Homo sapiens: one gene and its partners. The protein of the gene in region 1 purifies or fractionates together with the protein of each later gene. This does not show direct contact. Each region holds a gene or a part of one and is shown on either strand. Other genes may lie near its edges.

Region 1 (3,517 bases):
TCCTTGGTTTTCAGGTGAAGTGAGCAAAGCACCTCTTTCTCACTCCACGCAGGTCCCACTAGGGCTCACCTTGGTGCCCAGCCTGGGTTAGCAGGAGCCGACCTGGGGAAACTGAGCTCCAAGGCCCAAGACTGGCTGCCCCGGGTCAGGAGAGGGGACAGGGCAGAAAGAGGTGCCTTTGGGCCAGGTGTGGTGGCTCACGCCCAGGTGGGCGGATCACGAGGTCAGGAGATCGACACCATCCTGGCTAACACGGTGAAACCCCGTCTCTACTAAAAATACAAAAAATTAGCTGGGCATGGTGGCGGGCGCCTGTAGTCCCAGCTACTCGAGAGGCTGAGGCAAGAGAATGGTGTGAACTTGGGGGACGGAGCTTGCAGTGAGCTGAGATCGCACCACTGTGCTCCAGCCTGGGTGACAGAGTGAGACTCCGTCTCAAAAAAAAAAAAAAAAAAAGGTGCCTTTGCTTCAGGGACTGGGGCTGTTAGACCCCTTACCAGGTCTTCTCCGAGGCTCAGGGCCCTGGGCGCAGGCCAAGCCTCTCAACCAGGCCTCCTCATCTCCCCAGGCCCCGGTATTGGTGGGGAGGAAGTGGGAGGAAGGTGAACCCGGGGCAGTGTGGGAAGTGTAGGCGGGGCTAGTGGCTCAGATGGTCCCCAAGATTTTGCCCAGGTAGCCCTGGAGGTGGGGAGGGAGAAGATGAGCTGGGATATACATGGGTCAGAGTAGACCACAAGCTGGCCGATTTGTCCCTGTAGGCCCTGAGGCTCCTCAGAGGGCACGTAGGCCCAGTGTGGGCTGGGGACGGGAAACCTGATTTGCTGAGCCAGACAATCCTTACCCTCAGTGCCCTGGAAGGGGCTCAGACCTTCAGTGGTTCCGAAGGGCCTGTGCCCACCTTCCCTGGCCCCAGGGAGCACGTGGTCCTGTCTGGGCTGGGCCAGCCCTATGGGAGGCTGGGGAGGGCCTAGGCGAGCACAGGTCTGTCCTATCCCTCACTGGGCCCACCCTTTCCAGTGGGTCCTGGCCTTCGAGATCTTCATCCCCCTGGTGCTGTTCTTTATCCTGCTGGGGCTGCGACAGAAGAAGCCCACCATCTCCGTGAAGGAAGGTGAGTGCGGCAGGAGGCCCCAGGCACAGCCGGGGGAGCGCGGCACCTCGCACGCCTGCGCTGTGTGTGCACATCTGCACACGGGTGTCCTGCTCCCGGAGTCCCTGAGGTGCGGTGCCTGCTCCCCTGTGTGGTCCTGGGCCGTGCCTCCTGGCTGGGCTGTGGAGGTCGGGGCTGGCCTGTGGCCGCGAATGATGATGCCAACGCCTCTTCCTGGTGATGTGGGCACTCACTGGTCTCCTCTGTTCTGTTTTGATCCCCCTCCCTCCCCGCATGGTCTCTTGTCCTCGGCTGGCATGCAGTCTGTAAGTGAGCGGCCACCTCCTCCTGGCTGGCCTGGGCAGCAGCTGCGGGGGGCCCATGGGCCGTCCTGGCTTGAGCGCCCTCCCCGCTTGCATTAACAGCCCTCCCGGGCCCCCTGCCGGCCTCAGGAACAGCTGGCTCCAGATGGGGGGTGGCAGGCAGTGAAGTGGGAGGTGGTAGGGAGTGAAAGGCCCGGCCACCTAAAGGCACAGCTGGTGCCTGGGTCAAGCTGAGGCGGCATCTCTCTGCCTGGCCTTGCCTTCTAGGGCTGGGGTGCCTCGGCTTCTGGGCTGAGTCTGGGCTGAGGCTGGGCTGGCCTGGGCTGGGGCTGGAGCGGCCTGGCTACTCTCCCTTCATACTCCTTCAGGCTCTTGCACTCACTCTGCTAACCAGCTGGCCAGAGGTCAGAGGTCACTGCCCAGAGGGGGTCCTTTGTCCTCCCCTGGGCTCTGTAGGCAGTGCCACACCTGAAACGTTTTCGGGGGGAGAGTGCCAGGGCATGTGGGCCTGCACTGGCTGAAAGGAAAGGAATGCTCTGGGAGTTATGGCAGAAGGGGTGGTGAGTGGCTCTTTGACCTCTGACCTGCTGGAGTCATTCGCCCCAGAACGCTTGGCCTGTAGCCCAGCTGGGGCCAGGGCTCTGTGCCGCCTTCTCCCTAACGCTGCTTCTCCTTCCTGACTTTCTCTAAATTTCTCCTCTCGGCCTCTGTCTCCCTCCCCTTCTGGATTCCTCTCTCTCTCTCTCCCCTTTCACCCCCGACCCTGCCCTCTCCCGTGGGTCTGCCAGCCTTCTACACAGCGGCGCCCCTGACGTCTGCCGGCATCCTGCCTGTCATGCAATCGCTGTGCCCGGACGGCCAGCGAGACGAGTTCGGCTTCCTGCAGTACGCCAACTCCACGTGAGTGCCCACCCGCCCCTCGGAGCACCCACCCCTCCCCAGCCCATCCAGTGAGTGACATCCGCCATGGTGCAGGGTCACGCAGCTGCTTGAGCGCCTGGACCGCGTGGTGGAGGAAGGCAACCTGTTTGACCCAGCGCGGCCCAGCCTGGGCTCAGAGCTCGAGGCCCTACGCCAGCATCTGGAGGCCCTCAGTGCGGGCCCGGGCACCTCGGGGAGCCACCTGGACAGATCCACAGGTGTGCCCTGTGCAGGGAAGTTGGGGGGCAGGGCTGCGGGCAAAGCTCTGCTGTCACTGGGCTGAAGCCCACATCCACTCTGGGCCCCTCCACCTGCACTGAGTTCCCAGCCACGCACAGGCTGCAGTGGCAGAGCTGTGGTGTTGGGCTCGGCTCCGAGCGCATGTGGGGGCACCTTGCCAAGGTGCAGCGGCCTCTCAGCCTCGCCTTCCTGCCTGTCCAGTGTCTTCCTTCTCTCTGGACTCGGTGGCCAGAAACCCGCAGGAGCTCTGGCGTTTCCTGACGCAAAACTTGTCGCTGCCCAATAGCACGGCCCAAGCACTCTTGGCCGCCCGTGTGGACCCGCCCGAGGTAAGGCAGGGACAGCTCCCAGCCCTGGCCACTCCCTTCTGCCCCAGCCACGCCCCCTGGTTGCTGAGCCATCCTCAGGATGCTCAGCCTGAGTCACGCCCAGACCGTCTGAACCTTGCCCCCACCATCTGAGCCACGCCCCCACTCTCTGAGCCATGCCCCCACCATCTGAGCCACGCCCCCACACCTACATCGGAGCCACGCCCCCACCATCTGAGCCACGCCCCCACTCTCTGAGCCACGCCCCCACCATCTAAGCCACGCCCCCACACGTCCATCGGAGCCACGCCCCCACCATCTGAGCCACGCCCCCCACACCCCATCTGAGCCATTCCCCCACACCTCCTAGGTCTACCACCTGCTCTTTGGTCCCTCATCTGCCCTGGATTCACAGTCTGGCCTCCACAAGGGTCAGGAGCCCTGGAGCCGCCTAGGGGGCAATCCCCTGTTCCGGATGGAGGTGAGGGCATCCATGTGTGGGATGGGCCTGGAGTGCTGCCTGCCTCTGGGGGTGCTTCTGCTCCGTGGGTGAGGAAAGGGCCCCTTTGGTGACTTGGAGCTCCTCCTGGGAGAGGGGGAGGGTCCCAGGGGTCTATGGCAGGCATGAGGGGTAG
Region 2 (3,517 bases), on another chromosome or scaffold:
TCATTTCATTTAATCTTTACAATTCAGTAAGACAGGAATTATTACTCCATTGTGAAATATAAGAAAGCTAAGGCTAGGAAATAGTATATAACTGACCTGAGGTTAAACAGTTAATAAACAGCAGAGCCAGAACAGAAAAGTCAGATCTGTCTACCTTTGAGGCTAATCTTTTTGCCACAATACCACACGCTGTTCTCAGGCTCCTGCCAGAAGTGGGTTGTGTTTTCTGCAGTCAAAGTGGATCAATTCTTGCCACTCTCCTGCCCCACTTATTAATCAATAAGTATGTAATTAAGATGAAACCTAGTGTTTAATCTCGCCAAACTTCCTTGGTAAAGGATGTAAGAAACATGTAAACTAATAAGCATGATGTACTTTTCTATCTTCAACTCCTCTCATTTATCGTTTGTCTTATTATTAACAGACTATTGTGGTGAAGCTCCTTCCACTTGCCAACAATAACATCTGATATTAATAAAATAGAATTATAAAGCAATAAATTAGCATAATGCTTATAAACATAATTGACTTAAATATAATTGTACAAGTCTTTGTTTAAAATTCATTTAAAAAATATTTTCAAAATTGATAGTTTTTAGTTACTACAAAACGGTTAAAAAAACTGATACCACACTGTGCTATTTAGTACTGTACACATGATGTTTTTTTTTTAATTCCCACTGAATTAAAAAACCTAGGTTAAATAACTGAAAACTCCTTCAATACAACCTCTCCAAAACAATTTCAAATTAAGTAGTTCAGCTTTTAGATTCTGAATTCTTCCCCCACTGCTCCACAAAATTTTAAAGGAAACTAGGTATAATTCTGACAGTATAGCTGTTGACATATTAAAATTTGTTTTTTAACACAAACATCTTAATTTATTTACTGTTATCTGTATTTTCACTTTCAAGTTTAATGGTGGCTCTAAGACATTTGTTAAAATGTAACAATATTTTGAAACTAAATGTTGATTTTTATTTCTGTTACATATGAGAACTGCCTGTGTATTTCTCTATTATTTGATGGCATAAATTTATATTTAAGTGATAAGCAGTTGAGTTATCTGAAAAACAAATTTTGGCTATAAATTATGTATTTGAAAGCATGACCATAAAATATTTTTCACCACTAACAATGATTTTATTTCAAGAATTCCATGAGGTGTAATTAATGTATTGATACATGCACATGTTTCAAAGGATACCACCAAGAAAGACAACCTAAAGAAGGGGAGAAAATATTTGCAAATCATATATTTGATAAAGGATTTAGATCCAGAATATACACAGAATTCCAACAAGTCAAAAATAAAAACACGAATAATACAAATTATAAATGGGCTAAGGAATTAAATAGACATTTCTCCAAAGGAGATATTCAAATGGCCTGTAAGCACATGAAAACATACTCAACATCATTAGCCATCAGGGAGATATAAATACATGCTATATGAATGAACCTTGAAAACATTATGCTAAAAGAAGCCAGTCACAAAAGACCACATACTGTACTATTCATTCATATGAAATATCCATACAGACAGATCCATACAGACAAATCCATAGAGGCAAATCCATACAGACAGAAAGATCAGTGATTGCTAGGGGTTGAGCTGAAGGGGAAACAGAGTGACTGCTAATGAGTACAGGGCTTCTTTCTGGAGTGATACAAATACTCTAAAATTGATTGTGGTGACGGTTGCATAACTTGAATATACTAAAAAACACTGAATTGTACACTTCAACTTTAAATGGGTGAACTGCAAGGTATACGTAGGTTGTGAAATATATCTTAATAAAGCTATTTTTTAAGTATTATTTCCTTTTCTTCTTGTATCCAGAGCTCTGAGTTTACATTTTACAAGTGGTACAAATCTAGTATGCCAAGTATTTGCCTCTCCTTATTTACACATTGGATTATTTCAAAAGTAGCTGGTTCCATCACTAAGACATCTATCATTACATTATATTTTTGTTCTTTCCACTGACATCCTTTAGTATTTTTATTGTTAAAGTTTAGATCTATTATATAATTTGCATTTATACTAAAAATTAGATCTATCATATAATTTGTGTTTATACTATTTAATGCAACAAAAATATTTTGAAGAGAGTGTAAGAAATTCCATTAAACAATTCTCTGTGGTAGGTAAGTGCAAATTATGTTCTTAGTATTGCATTTCTTTTTGTGAAACAAACAAAAAGATGCATTTGGGAAACGTCGGCATTCAATGTATTCTATCAAGGCATAAAACATGATTTTACCACCGAAGTTTCTACAATTATTTTAGCCTATCTGATTATTCCTGATTTAATATCTTGGTATAGAATGTTTACACCCTACATACTGGCAATTTGTTTTTGAAATGTTCATTTAAAGTAGGAAGTTGCATTCAGTTAAATAACTAATAAGACTTTAGCAATATGCACATACAAAAGCATATTAAAAGCAGTTACATAGCCAGGTGTAGTGGCTCATGCCTATAATCCCAACACTTTGGGAGGCCGAGGTGGGCAGATCACAAGGTCAGGAGTTCGAGACCAGCCGGACCAACATGGTGAAACCCCATCTCTACTAAAAATAAAAAAATTAGCCAGGCGTGGTGGCAGACACCTGTAATCCCAGCTACTCAGGAGGCTGAGGCAGGAGAATTGCTTGAACCTGGGAGGTGGAGGTTGCAGTGAGCCGAGATTGCGCCACTGCACTCCAGCCTAGTGACAGAGTGTCTGTCTCAAAAAAAAAAAAAAACAAAAAAAAAACCAGTTACATTCTTGTAGAATCAAACCTAAAGATTTCAGGTAATTTTCTAATAATTTTTATTTCTAAGACAAAAGTATACAAATAAATTATAAGGGAGAAATGAAAAGAGAAAGATAATGAAGAGAATGGAGGAAAATGTCTGGTTAAAATGACTTCTTTATGCAAAAAAATTAGGAGCTGTTTAGTGTACAAAAAGAAGAGATTTAAAACAGAGTAGAAAAGAAAAGCCCGGAGAATCATACTGATGGCATTTTTAGATAATTCACTGATTTATTACAATATGTACACCAAAGGACATGGGTATGATCTGTAATAAATTCATGATTAATACTGTTAAGTATATCATTCATCTCATCTAACTTAAAATATATACGTAGAAGAAAATACAATATTAATAAGCTTACATTCTTCTTCCTTTGGATCAAGCTGTGTAACACTAACAGATAAACGGTCCACACGTTCTTGCAATGAGTTGACTCTGAAGGAAAAACTATGTGCTTCATTGAATAATTCTCCAAATATATCTTCAGCATATTTACCTAAGCAAAAATGACACATATATCATAAAATTTAACATCCAGAGCACTGAGTTTTTATCTTTGCAAGCAGTAGAAATCTAGCATGATATTTGCCCTCAGATACTTTGTGATCAGAGATAAATAATGAACAATGTAATATTACAACTGGTGACCTGTTGAATTTGGAATTTATTTGGAATTACAGTTGACCCTTGAACAAAATCGTTTAACTGTAA
Region 3 (3,517 bases), on another chromosome or scaffold:
GAACTGGAGGACATTATGTTAAGTGAAATAAGCCAGGCACAGAAAGACAACTATAGCATATTTTCACTCATTATGTGGGAGCTTAAAAAACAAAACAAAACAAAACTGATCTCATGGAGACAGAGAGAAGAATGATGGTTACCAGAGGCTGGGAAGGGTACTGGGGAAGGGGGATATAAAGAGGGTTTGATTAATGGGTACAAAAATACCTTCAGATAAAAGGAATAAGACCTAGTGCTTGGAAGCACAACAGGACAACTATAGTTAACAATAATTTATTGTGTATTTCAAAATAACTAGAAAAGCAGAACTGGTATGTACCTAATACAAAGAAATTATAAATGCTTGAAGTGATGGATGTCCCAATTATCCTGATTTGATCATTACACATTGTACATTTGTATCTGAATATCACATGGACCCCTATAAATGTACTATTATGTACACATAATAAAATTTTTTAAAAAAACTAAGAATTTGCTAATAATATTTAATTTGTTGGCTTGTCTGAAATATCCTAGAAGGAGCAAGGAAATGAAGAGAGCCTCTATACTCATAAAATTTGTATTAGATTCATAGACTATACAAGGAATTATTAGGTCCATAAACTCAACAATGAAGCACATGAAAGAGGGAAAAGTATATGAAACAGGCAGTCCTTCACATGAAGGTAATCTATGTTGTTGAATACTCACTGTGGCATTCTTAATTTTTTCAAGCTGCCAAAATACCATCTGCAATAGATAATACCACCCACATCATTCAAAATCCTTCCCTGCCCTGACAGCCTTGGGCGTCCCATTGGGATCTCTGCCGAGCCAGCTGCCCAATCCCTGAGAGTTTCTACCTAGTCAGCCAATTTCTTCTTCAGGTACCAGGATGTGGGTGTTCAGATATATTGTGCATTTAAAAAAATAAGAAGGTTTTGGTGAGCTAGTCTGAAAAACCAATATTTCAAATATCATCTCTGTGACAAAGAGTCTGAAACTCTAAATCATCAACTTATATTTGAATTTCTGGAACTCATCCAATTCAGGAGCTTATCTATATAAATATATCCAGTCTGAAGAAAACAAGCCCCACTATTCTTGTGTTATAACTATGAATGTTTATAGACAGTTAACATTCACTTAACAAATAAATTTCAAAATTTCAGATCTAGCTACTTTGGAAAAGGCTGCAAAAGTGTAAGTTAAATGAACAGTATGCTGAAAAAAATGTTCTTGTTTGAGCACTAACACAATTCAGAGGCCCAATGTATCTGATGTATCTCTCTATGGAATCAACATGTAGGAATTCAAATATAAAATTGTGAGGAATCCAGTTGACTAAAAAGATTCAGTTTTAGAGATTCTCTGGCTTTACCTTGTTCTACTTTATAATAATCCTAGATGGTTTGCTTATGAGGTATTAAAGGAGCCAATTTCCATTTGGACTCATCACCTGTGACAGACATTTTGGGGGGGGTCTGACTTTAAAACCAGGTGGCATTAGAATTCCCCTTGCCTATGATAGGAAAGTACATTATTAACCTGCCACCTCTCTGTAACCCTCCAAATCAGTCCAGGCAAAGCTCCTTTCTCCTTCACTTACTCATAACTGGCCACTGTCCAAGAGCTAGTTTTAAAACCTCAAAAACTATACACGGTTTTTATTAAGAAGCTGTATTTGCTTCTTGCTGTGAATGTTTATACAATTAATACATACTTTGAATTTTTTATCTCTACAAAATAAAAAATAAAAGCCAGGCATGGTGGCATGCACCTGTAGTCCTAGCTACTTAGGAGGCTGAGGTAGGAGGATCACTTGTGCCCAGGAGTTTGAGGCTGTCGTGTGCCATGACTGTGCCTATAGATAGCCACTGAGCTCCAGCCCGGGCAACACAGCAAGATCCTGACTCTAAAAACAAAAATATATATATTTTTATTTTTTAAAGCTTTCAGTCAGCAACTTTAAGAATGCCTACAAGTTTATTTACTTATTGCATGAAATTTATTAATTTCTAGATTGAAATACTGTTAAATATTTAAAATTCGAAATATTTGGTTGTTATAGTATCCCCAAGCAGAAGGTTATATATTAGTTCTTAAGACACCAAACAAGTGATCTAGCAGAACAGTTTAATGACTTAGGCATAGTTAAATCAGGAAATTAAGAACTGTCAAATATCCAAACCTGACCAAAAACAAGCAATGGGGAAAGGATTCCCTATTCAATAAATGGTGCTGGGATAACTAGCTAGCCATATGCAGAAGATTGAAACTGGACCCCTACCCCACGCCAACCTCCTTAAACCACATACAAAAATTAAGTCCAGATGAATTAAAGACTTAAATGTAAAATCCAAAACTATAAAAACCCTGGAAGACAACTTATGCAATACCATTATAGACATAAGAACAGGCAAAGATTTCATGACAAAGGCACCAAAAGCAATTGCAACAAAACCAAAAATTGACAAATGGGATCTAATTAAACTAAAGAGCTTCTGCACAGCAAAGGAAACTATCAACAAAGTGAACAGACAACCTACAGAATGGGAGAAAATTTTTGCAAACGAAGCATCTGACAAAGGTTTAATATCCAGCATATATAAGGAACTTAAACAAATTTACAAGAAAAAAGCAAACAACCCCATGAAAAAATGTGCAAAGGAGATGAACACTTTTCAAAAGAAGACATAAATGTGGCCAAGAATCATATGAAAAAAAGCTCAACATCACTGATCATTAGAGAAATGCAAATCAAAACCACAAGGAGATACCATTTCAAGCGTCAGAATGCGTATTATTAAAAAGTCAAAAAAAAATACATGTTGGAGAGGCTGCAGAGAAAAAGGAACACTTAACACACTGTTGGTGGGAGTGTAAATTAGTTCAACCATTGTGGAAGACAGTATGGCAATTCCTCAAAGACCTAAAAACAGAAATACCATTTGACCCATCAATCCCACTACTGGGTATACACCTAAAGGAATATAAATCCTTGTGTTATAAGACACATGCATGCATATGTTCACTGCAGCACTGTTCACAAGAGCAAAGACATGGAATCAACCTAAATGCCCATCAAATGATAGACTGGATAAAGAAAATGTGGGTCCATATATACCGTGTGAATACTACACAGCCATAAAAAAGAAGATCATGTCCTCTGTGGAAACATGGATGGAGCTGGAGGCCATTATCCTCAGCAAACTCACACAGGAACAGAAAAGCAAATTCCGCACGTTCTCACTTGTAAGTGGGAGCTAAATGATGAGAGCACATGGACACAAAGAGGGGAACAATACACATTGGAGCCTACCAGAGGGTGGAGAGTAGGAGGAAGGAGAGGATCAGAAAAAATAACTAATGAGTACTAGGCTTAATACCTGAGTAACAAAATATCTGTAGAACAAACCCCCATGACACAAGTTTACCTATATAACAAACCTGCACATGTACCCCTCAACTTAAAAGTTAAAAAAATTGTTAAATATCACAATACACAAGAAGACTGTATTCTAGATATATTA
Region 4 (3,517 bases), on another chromosome or scaffold:
TTGCTTGAACCCAGGAGGCGGAGGTTGCTGTGAGCTGAGATCGCACCATTGCACTCCAGCCTGGGCAACAAGAGTGAAACTCCATCTCAAAAAGAAAAAAGCAGAAAATAATTGATGTGGTTTGGCTGTGTCCCCACCTAAATCTCACCTTGAATTGTAGCTCCCATATTTCTCACGTGTTGTGGAAGGGACCTGGTGGGAGATAATTGAATCATGGGGGCCGTTTCCCCCATACTGTTCTCATGGTAGTGAATAAGTCTCACAAGATCTGATGGTTTTATAAGAGGTTTCCCCTTTCACTTGGCTCTCATTCTCTCTTGCCTGCACCATGTAAGATGTGCCTTTCGCCTTCCGCCACGATTGTGAGGCCTCCCCAGCCATGTGGAACTGTGAGTCCATTAAACCTCTTTTTCTTTATAAATTACCCAGTCTTGAGTACGTCTTTATCAGCAGTGAAAATGGTCTAATACAGTAATGTTAGGTATCTGTGGAATTTTTCAGTCATTTATTTATACCACAAACATTCGCTAAGCACCTACTAGGTTCCAGGCTCCTATGAGTTTGTAAACAAGACAAAATCCAGCCTTCAGAGAACTTACATTCTAGTAGGAACTTGAATTTATCCCTCATATCTCTCCCCTAGATTGTAAATCCATGAGGCCTGGGACTTTGTTTTGTCTACTGCAGAATCCCCCACACTAGTACAATGAGCAATAAACATTTTCTGAATGAACAAAGTACCAAATATACATGCAAATAAATAAGATAATCTCAAACAGGAGTTGTAAGGATTATATGAAACAGTCCATGTTCAGAGCTTGGCACAATGCTTGGTACATCCGTGGTATTCAATAAATATTTGTTGAATAAATGAGTAAAGTAGTCCCCCCTTATGTGAGGAGAATACGTTCCAAGACCCTCAGTGGATGTCTGAAACCATGGATAGTACTAAATAAACTCTATATACAGTCATGTGCCATATAACAACATGTTGGTCAACACTGAACTGTAGAGATGGTGGTCCTATAAAATTATAATAGAGGTGAAAAATCACCACAGCCTAAAGATATCACAGCTGTTGTAATTTTATAATGCAATGCATTACTTACTTGTTTGTGGTGATACTGGTGTAAACACACCTACTGTGCTGCCAGTCATAAAAGTATAACACATACAATTATGTATAGTACGTGATATTTAATAAACAACCATTTACGCGTTTATGTATTTACTATATTATTATCATTAGATAACTCCTTCCTCTTATATAAAAAAAGTCGGCTGGGCGTGGTGGCTCACACCTGTAATCCCAGCACTTTGGGAGGGCGAGGTGGGCGGATCACGAGGTCAGTGTTAGACCATCCTGCCTAACACGGTGAAACCCCATCTCTACTAAAAATACAAAAAAATTAGCTGGGTGTGGTGGCGGGCGCCTGTAATCCCAGCTACTCGGGAGGCTGAGGCAGGAGAATGGCGTGAATCCGGGAGGTGGAGTTTGTAGTGAGCGGAGATCACACCACTGCACTCCAGCCTGGGCAACAGAGCAAGACTCTGTCTCCAAAAAAAATAAAAACAAAAACAAAAATTAGCTGGGCGTAGTGGTGGGTGCCTATAATCCCAGCTGCTCAGGAGGCTAAGACAGGAAAATCACAGGAGAATTGAACCTGGGAGGCGGAGGTTGCAGTGAGCCGAGATGGTGCCACTGCACTCCAGCCTGGGCAACATAAGCAAAACTCTGTCTAAAAAAAAAAAAAAAATGAAACAGCTTCAGGCAGGTCCTTCAAGGAATTCCAGAAGGCATTGTTATCAATCATCTGAGATAACAACAGTTCTGTGAGTGTTACTGCCCCCAAAGACCTTCTAGCAGGATAACATGGGGAAGTGGAAGACAGTGATATTGATGATACTGACCCTAGGCCTAGGCTAATGTGTGTTTGTAGCTTAGTTTTTAACAAAAAAGTCTAAAAGGTGAAAACAAAATAAAAAACTAAAAACAGAAAAAAACTTAGAGAATAAGGATATAAATAAAATATTTCTGTATAGCTGTACAATGTGTTTTAAGCTAAGCATTATTACAAATGAGTCAAAAAGTTTTTTAAAATTTTAAAGTTCATAAAGTAAAAAAGTTACAGTAAGCTAACGTTAATTTATTATTGGAGGCCAGGCATGGTGGCTCACGCCTCTAATCCCAGCACTTTGGGAGGCCAAGGTGGGTGGAGATCACCTGAGATCAGGAGTTTGAGACCAGCCTGGCCAACATGGTGAAAACCCATCCATCTCTACTAAAAATACAAAAATTAGGCCAGGCACGGTGGCTCACGCCTGTAATCCTAGCACTTTGGGAGGCCGAGGCGGGTGGATTGCCTGAGCTCAGGAGTTCAAGACCAGCCCGGGCAACACAGTGAAACCCCATCTCTACTAAAATACAAAAAATTAGCTGGGCATGGCAGCGTGCACCTGTAATCCCAGCTACTCGGGAGGCTGAGGAAGGAGAATTGCTAGAACCCGGGAGGCAGAGGTTGCAGCGAGCCGATATTGCACCACTGTACTCCAGCCTGGGCAACAGAGTGAGACTCTGTCTTTAAAGAAAAAAAAAATCAGCCAGGCATGGTGGTGGGCGCCTGTAATCCCAGCTACTCAGGAGGCTGAGGCAGGAGAATCACTTGAACTGGGGAAGCAGAGGTTGCAGTAAACCAAGATCATGCCACTGCACTCCAGCCTGGGCAACAGAGCAAGACTCTATCTCAAAAAAAAAAAAAAAATTTATTACTGGAGAAAGAAAAAAAAATTTAAATAAATTTAGTATAGCCTAAGTGTACAGTATTTATAAAGTTTACAATAGTGTAATGTCCTAGACCTTGACATTCACTCACCACTCACTGACTCACCCAGAGCAACTTCCTGTCCTGTGAACTTCATTCATGTGCCCTTTTATACTGTATTTGTACTGTACTTTTTCTATGTTTATATACATACTTACCATTCTATTACAATTGTCTATAGTATTCAGTAGAGTAACATGCTGTACAGGTTTGTAGCCTAGGAGCAATAGGCTACACCATATAGCCTAGGTGTGTAGTTGGCTATACCATCTAGGTTTGCTTAAGTACACCCTATGATGTTTGCACAATGATGAAATCACCTAACGATGCAATTCTCAGACTATATCCCTGTCATTAAGCAATGCGTGACTACTGTTTTCCTATACATACACATCTATGAGAATTCTTAATTCATTAAATTTTTAAAAATTTTTATTTTTGAGACAGGGTCTTACTCTGTCACCCAGGCTGAAATGCAGTGGTATGATCACGGTTCACTGCACCCTTGACCTCCCAGGGTCAAGCAATCCTTCACCTTGGCCTCCCAAGTAGTGGGGACTACAGGCACGCACCATCATGCCCAGCAAATTTTTTTTTATTTTTTGTAGAGACGAGGTCTCACCATGTTGCCCAGGCTGATCTTGAACTTCTGGGGTCAAGCAATTCTCTCGCCTCAGCTTCCCAAAGCACTGGGA

Evidence for each region. The genes of interacting proteins can lie anywhere in the genome.
Region 2: the proteins of ABCA2 (region 1) and WASF1 fractionate together in Homo sapiens (co-fractionation; one large-scale study listed by BioGRID). This does not show direct contact.
Region 3: the proteins of ABCA2 (region 1) and ZNRF2 purify together in Homo sapiens (affinity purification with mass spectrometry; one large-scale study listed by BioGRID and IntAct). This does not show direct contact.
Region 4: the proteins of ABCA2 (region 1) and EDEM2 purify together in Homo sapiens (affinity purification with mass spectrometry; one large-scale study listed by BioGRID and IntAct). This does not show direct contact.

Annotation. Positions count from the first base shown.
Region 1 is NC_000009.12:137,021,737-137,025,253, reverse strand, and holds part of ABCA2 (ATP-binding cassette sub-family A member 2), read left to right. Parts: intron 1-1,017; coding exon 1,018-1,111; intron 1,112-1,413; coding exon 1,414-1,416; intron 1,417-2,201; coding exon 2,202-2,313; intron 2,314-2,388; coding exon 2,389-2,552; intron 2,553-2,775; coding exon 2,776-2,903; intron 2,904-3,252; coding exon 3,253-3,363; intron 3,364-3,517. UniProt on the Homo sapiens protein: Probable lipid transporter that modulates cholesterol sequestration in the late endosome/lysosome by regulating the intracellular sphingolipid metabolism, in turn participates in cholesterol homeostasis.
Region 2 is NC_000006.12:110,110,159-110,113,675, forward strand, and holds part of WASF1 (actin-binding protein WASF1), read right to left. Parts: intron 3,303-3,517; coding exon 3,168-3,302; intron 1-3,167.
Region 3 is NC_000007.14:30,326,092-30,329,608, reverse strand, and holds part of ZNRF2 (E3 ubiquitin-protein ligase ZNRF2), read right to left. Parts: intron 1-3,517. UniProt on the Homo sapiens protein: E3 ubiquitin-protein ligase that plays a role in the establishment and maintenance of neuronal transmission and plasticity. Ubiquitinates the Na(+)/K(+) ATPase alpha-1 subunit/ATP1A1 and thereby influences its endocytosis and/or degradation.
Region 4 is NC_000020.11:35,126,825-35,130,341, forward strand, and holds part of EDEM2 (ER degradation-enhancing alpha-mannosidase-like protein 2 isoform 1 precursor), read right to left. Parts: intron 1-3,517. UniProt on the Homo sapiens protein: Involved in the endoplasmic reticulum-associated degradation (ERAD) pathway that targets misfolded glycoproteins for degradation in an N-glycan-dependent manner.